2 linked regions of the Homo sapiens genome follow. The protein of the gene in region 2 interacts with the protein of the main gene of each other region in a biochemical or structural test. Each region holds a gene or a part of one and is shown on either strand. Other genes may lie near its edges. The genes, in order: ZFYVE27 and VAPA.

Evidence for each region.
Region 1: the proteins of VAPA (region 2) and ZFYVE27 form a complex in vitro, tested with the Homo sapiens proteins (one study listed by IntAct).

What each region holds. Positions count from the first base shown.
Region 1 is NC_000010.11:97,747,029-97,750,849, reverse strand, and holds part of ZFYVE27 (protrudin), read right to left. Parts: intron 2,582-3,821; coding exon 2,486-2,581; intron 1,377-2,485; coding exon 1,264-1,376; intron 520-1,263; coding exon 380-519; intron 1-379. UniProt on the Homo sapiens protein: Key regulator of RAB11-dependent vesicular trafficking during neurite extension through polarized membrane transport. Promotes axonal elongation and contributes to the establishment of neuronal cell polarity.
Region 2 is NC_000018.10:9,930,984-9,934,804, reverse strand, and holds part of VAPA (vesicle-associated membrane protein-associated protein A), read right to left. Parts: intron 2,996-3,821; coding exon 2,843-2,995; intron 1-2,842. UniProt on the Homo sapiens protein: Endoplasmic reticulum (ER)-anchored protein that mediates the formation of contact sites between the ER and endosomes via interaction with FFAT motif-containing proteins such as STARD3 or WDR44.

The sequences.
Region 1 (3,821 bases), on a different chromosome or scaffold from region 2:
AGGACTGCCTGAGCCCAGGAGATGGAGGTTGTAGTGAGCTGTGATTGCCCCACTGCCCTCTAGCCTGGGTGACAGAGGGAGGCCTTATCTCAAAAAAAAAGGAAAAAAAAAAAAGAAAAGGAAAGAAAGAACCTGCACTCCATGATGTGAATATCTATCTATAAAGCACTTGGAGCAGCATCTGACACAGGGTAAGCACTCAGTGAAGCATGGAGTAGCTGTTTTTATTACAATTATTATTATTGAACACTTCAGGGGAGTTAAGGCCTGGGAAATAGCAGGAACTACAACAGAGGCCAGCCCAGGAGCCAAAAACAAGCTGATAACAGGGGGGCCCACAAGCGGCCACAGCAGGCTCTGCCCTGACAGTGGCACTTACCTCCGTGGGTGTGAGGGCAGGCGTGCTGTCCATCAGACCATCCTTCCCCCCAACATCTGGTGGTGGAGGACTCTCAAAGGCATGCTCTTCCTGCTTTGGGTTCATCCTCTGCTGCAGAGATGCCCTGTACTCAGACACAACTACCCAGGGAATGGAGAACAAGGTAGGAGGCAAAAATGAGACACCGTGAGTGGCACTTTAGGGGTACCCACTTCTGCAGCTGGCTGGCCTCTCTTCCCTTCACTACAGGAAAGAGTCACCCTCCTAACTCTGAGCGAGTCACCTAACTTAAGCCTCTTAAACAAAACTTAGATACCACCACCTGCCCCAGACAGCTACAGAGATTAAATGTAGTAAATGCTCAATAAATCATGGCTTCTGTAATAAATAACTCTACCACAGGGAGGAAAACAAATACAGCAATCACCCAAACATATGTACAGACTCGGGCCTCTGCGACTCAGTGCCTCTCCAGACTGCCTCAGCGCTTTAGAAGCCAGACAACAGAGGGGTATTCTGGGATCACACAGAGATGTGGTAGCAACTCCAGGTGGCTGCACCCCAGGGGATGGGTGGCAGCTTTGGGAAAAACATCCTTCCCTCATCTTCCAGAAGCCATCATATCATATAAGCAGTGATTCATCTGCCTTGGGAAGGGAGCGAAGGGAGATGGGAGCCCAATGGTAGCAGCCTCCCCTGGTGAGATTCCAGCTTCATCTAACATCTCAGAGATGCAGAGCCCATGAGAGAGGACCCCAGTGTGGTGTTGCACTTGTGGAAGCACAGCAAACTGATGATTAGCTGTAGAGACAGAAGAACTGGGGAGCCTAGCCTAGCCCTCAGAGCCAGCTTGGGCCCCATCTTTCAGGCCCTTCAGGGCTTACCTCGGAAGAACTCCACATTCCCCAGAAAGAGCGTGCTGTTTAAAAGGGTGAGAACCCAGCAGAGTGGCAGCAAATACAGCATGCAGACTGTGCCCAGAAGAGCCCCATAGAACCTGGATGACAGGGAAGAACCACAAGATCAGAAATTCGTAACAGCAGAAGGAGACGGGTTTGGAGCACACCCACAGCAGGGTCCAGGTGAGACACAGCTCTGGGCACATTAATAAACTGACAAGAGCCGCTCATCAAACCAGCGGAAAATGGCGATGAAGACTGAGAACTATCCCAAGTCACCGGTGCAAACACCTGATGCTGGTGAGGCCAAAGTGGTGTCAGCTGGTGGCACATAAACTGGTTCAACCATCATCACTCCTTAAGGTCTAGACTCTGAAGTCTAGAGTAAGACAGACTGGGATTTGAATCCAGCTCTGCCACTTCTCATTCTGAGAAGTCTCTTGGTTCTCTGGGCACAGCTCCCTTCCCGTGTAAGATGGGGACTGAAGTAGCGCCTACCTAATAGAGTTACTATAAGAGTGAGATAATACAGAGGGAGTGTTGAGCAGTGCCTGGCACCAGGTGAACACAACAAACATTAGTTATCACTATTATTCATATTAAAGAGCCTCAAAAACACCCATTCTGTTTGATATGGTAGTTTCATCCTTGAATTTACTCCAAGAAAAATTTTCTAAAACATTAAAGCTAAATCCATAAAAATGTTTACCATGGGGTTAGTAATGAAAAGGGAAATTGACTAAATCTGTAACAGAATGGTTTCACAAATTATATTTGCCATCTATATTAATCTGGTATTATAAATAATTCCAAAAGCTATATAGCAACAAAGAAAATCATCTTTAATATAATGATAAGTGGAAAACAAAAGAAAAATTGAACATACACTATGAAACTATACATCCGTAAAGTAGATGCATGTGACAAATTCTAGCAGGCAAAACAAACAAGAGATTCGGCTGCATGGTGGATTATATGGTGAGTTATTTTTCTATTATTATTTTTACCACACATAAAAGCAAGCATCTAAACAAAAGCAGTACATTAGAGCCCGCAAGCATATGTGCAGATATACACACAAGAGCCCAGGAGGCGAGCTCTTCCCCTGAGGTAAGAGGGGCAGAGGTCCTCTCAAGGCAGCTGGCTTTGCTCGGGCTCAAGCTGCAAATTCCTATAGGGTGGTGGCGGGAGAGGAGGGGTCACTCACTGTGAGGACACGACGGGGTTCTCCCAGTGCAGCACGCGGTAGGCGGCTTCACATGTGCAGCACAGGCGGCTCAGGAAGGCCTCCAGCTGGATCAAGCTACAGACACAGGGGCTTTGGTGAGTGGGCAGGACAGAAGCCCTGGGAAGTGGAGCCTGGGGCCTTGCAGGTACAGTTGGCTAGGGATGGTCAATCTCTTTAAACACACTCACCATGTGCTTAAAGAGAGAGGAGTCGAGAGAGCATGGGAGAAACAGGCCTGGCTAAGCCACCCCAGCTACATTTCAGTCCCCTTTTTGGAGCCTCTTGCTGAGGTGGAAACAGTATAAATGTTCCTGCTTTGGTCTTCTAACTGTTGATGTCAGGCAGGCTACTGAAATTCTCCAGGGCTGTGGCTTCTTTATCTATAAAATGAGGATCAGAGGACCCACCTCACGGGTACACAGCAGCTGTCAGAATAAATGGCATGATATTCTCTACCTGGGATGTGAAACAGACTCACTTGGGGAGTTCTGGTTGTTGTTTTTTTAAACATGGATGAACCACAGAAGCCATGAGCACAATCTGAACCCAGATCTGGGTTTCTGAAGGGAAACCAGGAAACATGGAGATAAGCTGATTCCAGGGCTGGGGCAGGGAAGTATAAGATGAATTTGACCATCCTGTTGTACCATAAAGGAAGCATTCAAAAATGACAGGGACCAATGCAAACAAGAGCCAACTCAAAAGAGCTCCTACTGGCCAAATCTAGGACAATTTGAGATCAAAATAAATAATGATAGTAATAGATTCTAACTCATCAAATAAAATATAAATCTATGAGTTCATACTGATAATAGTAAGAAAGAGCTTCCTTATAGTAGAAAGCCAGCTAAAAAAATGTCGATAGAATAATTAGAAGATCATCTTTGCAACCATCATAGTAATAAACTGATTAAGGCAAGACCCATCAATGGATTTTTAAAGCAGTGGATAAATGTTTGATGAGGAACAAGATATTTACATAGTCTCAAAGTATCTCCCCTCAAATTACTACTAATGAAGAGTAAAATGATAATTTACAGTATGGATGCCTTAACCAAGTGATCAAAGTCAGTATTTCCTGACATCAGGTGCCTCCTGATACGGATGTACTGAACATGACACATCACTTGTCACACTCTAAATCTGATCACAAGGAACCAAACAATCCAAAAATTAGGGAGATTCTACAAAATAATAAGCTTGTACTATTCAAAAATGTCAAGGTCACAAGAAACAAGGACTGAGGAACTGCTCCAGATTAAAGAAGACTAAAGAGACATAAAAAAATTAAACATGATGTATAATCCTGAATTGG
Region 2 (3,821 bases):
CTCGTCTTTTAAGTTTTCTAAGGTTCCATGTGGTTGTAAGTCATGCTAAATTTATGTAACATGAGTCCAATATAACAGACTATACAAAGAATCAATCAACAGTTACACAAAATATGTACATGGCATTATAGAAATTATTTCCCTAACTTTAGATTATTTCTAAGATATATCTCTACACTTTCAAAAAGATAAACACGGGTAAATAAATGTAAGAAATAATTATGTAATAAAGTCTTATTCATAAGGTGTGTCTGAGAAGTCCATTAACTGCTATCAAGGTTAAGACAACTTTTTCAAGGGGCCAAATACACAGCAGCAGGAAATGTACTGGATAAAATGCCTCAGAATACAGCTTAAGCTAAATAAAATTCCATTAGCAACCTTCACTGAGTTAATGATTATAAGCTAATCACTATGAACCAAAAATTTGTGAATAAAACGAAAACTTACAACATGGTTAAGTTTATAGGAGTTATACTCTAATTTAGGTTGCAGACCACATAACAAGACAAAGACGATCTTGAAAACATATATAAAAATGTGCACAAATTGAAGCAAATTCAAAAAACAAAGCGTCAAAAGGACACAGGGAAAAAGAGAAATGAGCATGTAGTACAGAGAATTAACCAGAGAAGGTTGTTGGAAGAAGCATAGCTTTGAGTGACTGTAAATGGAAATACACTACACTAAAAACTGGAAAAGCCAAATTCTAATTAAGTAGAACAATCCAAGGGCATGTTTGCGTAATCAGTAACCAGTTTGTCTGAAGGTTTTAATAAGTCAGGTTTCTGTGGGAGAAAGTGTTTTGATACGTTGTTTTCTCAAGAAATATTAATACACAGAAACCAGCAATCTAGGCCCCTCAAAGAAAAAGTCATTCTGCATAGTTGTATGGATTCCTAGGGATATAACTGTTTGTACCAATAAACTATTTTTAGCCATGTGGATTGAAATAATTATATCTTCTGGCCAGGCGCAGTGGCTCACGCCTGTAATCCCAGCATTTGGGGAGGCTAAGGTAGATGGATCACTTGAGGTCAGGAGTTCGAGACCAGCCTGGCCAACATGGTGAAACCCTGCCTCTACTAAAAATACAAAAATGAGCCAGGCATGTTGGCACACGCCCGTAATCCTAGCTACTCAAGTGGCTGAGGCAGGAAAATCACTTGAATCCAGGAGGCGGAAGTTGCAGTCACCTGAGATCACACCACTGCTCTCCTACCTGGGCAACAAAGCAAGACACTGTCTCAAAAAAGAAAGAATTCTCTCTTCTTCCAATTGTGCTAAAGGCTTAAAGATGTAGTAGAAAGCAGCAACATGCAGAGTGCATGCATTCCTTCATCTTTATTTCCCATCTCTCTTTCCCAGGAACTGATGAATTAGACTTAGCAAAGAAACATGAAAAGCACTCCTCCCAGGCCTCCTTACCGCAAGACTCACTAAAACATCTTTTTCCTAGCTCTTGAGGTTTTTGGCTATACCTGCTGAGGGAAGATTTAGTGTCACCAAGAACTCTATGGTCTGTCCTTCATGGCCTTTGTAGTCAGGCTCCACCTCTAAATACTCTCTCAATGAGCCTACCCTGGGTTCTCTCTCTCTGTACCCAATTCTGCTGTGGACTTGAAAACTGATACAGAATTATTATAATATCTTAGGATTACTTATCAAGATCACCCAGGCTTTTTTTTTTTTTAAGGTACACTTTTTTTGTTTGTTTGTTTTGAGACGGAGTCTTACTCGTGCAGTCTCCGCTCACTGCAACCTCCACTTCCTGGTTTTAAGCAATTCTCTGCCTCAGCCTCCCAAGTAGCTGGGACTACAGGCGCCCACCACCACACCCGACTAATTTTTTGTATTTTTAGTAGAGATGGGGTTTCACCATCTTGGCCAGGCTGGTCTTGAACTCCTGACGTCGTGATCCACCCGCCTCGGCCTCCCAAAGTGCTGGGATTACAGGCATAAGCCACCGCGCCCGGCCTAAATGTAACATTTCTAAGTCATGCTCCTAGAGATTCCAATCTGGGAGAGATGAATCCATGTGTGTTCCTGCTCCCTGTGTTATTACAGCATATAGTGGGAGTTGAGAAGTACTGCTGTAAAGAAAGAGTAAATGCAGCCTGAGAGGTTCTCCCCTAAGTAAAATACATGGAACCATAAAAGTTCTCATATTTACTTCCTATTTCCTATTTCTCAGCTATATTAGTGAAGTCAGAGGGACTGAGAAAGAAAGAAACAGTTTATAGGGGGCATTAGATATGGTACCAGTATCAACTCCACAGCAGGAGTAAGTAATCCATATATGGCAAGCATACTTCTTTGACAAGTAAACACATAAGAGAGTAGTAAAATAAAAATAAAGTTTTCACACACAGGACACTGTTGACATTTACAATGAAAGGCATAAAGACTCATCTGATTTGACACAGTAGGCAAAAAAGTGGCATTGCACCTTTTTAAGCAAAAGAATTATGACACTTCTATAGCTGCATGCAATGTGTAATATGATCATGATCTGAAGGAGAATGACCCATCAGAAAAATGATATAATTTTTCAAAGATAAAATAACAAAGGCAGAGAAGGTAGTGGTTAGCTGTAGAAATAAAGACTAAAGTTTGTAATTGACAATAATTTCTTATAAACTGACCACACTCCCTACACAGAAGATGAGTGAGAAATTTTCTGAAACAGCTTGCAGAGTACTGTAACAAGACATCTTTAAAGGCAAAACCAGAATAATATAAGAATTATTTCCCTCCCTCCAGATGAAACCTTATTAAACAAAAACATAATCATAAAAGGTCAAAATTCAAATGTACATAAATTCAGAACATGATTTGCTACCTGAAACAGTCACAGTTGACCCTGGGTCAATAATTCCACTGTTGGGCCTCACACAGTACCGGCGAGGTGCTGTAGTCTTCACTTTGAAACACACTTTTCTATCCGATGGATTTCGCAATTTAAGATTTGTAGTGACTACATCTGTGAAGGGGCCTGTAAAGTTTAAAAATTAAAGAGAAAACAAAATTTAATTGGATTCTCAACAACGAAGGATTCAAAACTGAAAATATATAACCTCAATTTTAATTAAGTGCTGACATTTGTAGGCATAAATATCCCAAATGGCTACTAACACTGCCTTTCTCGAGGTGGCAGACTTAAAAACAAGTCATATTTTCTTCTTCATTCCCTGTATTTCACAAAATTTCTACCATAAACATGTATGATTTCTATCAAAAAAGTACTATGAAACTTTGGATCTATGAACTTTACAACTGTATTTTTACAGTATGTTGTTAATACGTTGCTGAAAATAACAGAATTTCCCAGTTGTCTGCAAACCAGTGTCAATCTTCAAGTTCATTTTACTAGGCCAACTGCAAAAATCTCTACATCTGAAGACCCTACACCCTATGACATCAGTGCTTTTGCTTCACCTCAATTTTGTTTGTTCATTCATTCAATCCATTCATTCATTCACATATTTGTTAAGTGTTTATTATGCCATATGCTCTAGATACAAAGTTTTTAAGCTTTGGTTCTGCACCCAAACAACATAAAATTACAAAACAAAGAACCCAAAAGGCTGATCCATTTTGCTGAAGAAAAGCCTGAAGAAAAATTATGCAGATTAATTTAGACAACAAAATAAATACCTGTTAATTTGGAGGAAGAACATAAAAACATGTTCCAGTTGGGAACAATAACCACAGTTCTAAGTATTCCAAAAGTAATTTTAAATCGTTCTAAAAACAATTCGTTTAAAGTTATGTATTTTTTAAAAAAGCTAGAAGGCTGGAATCAAAGACAACTATTATAA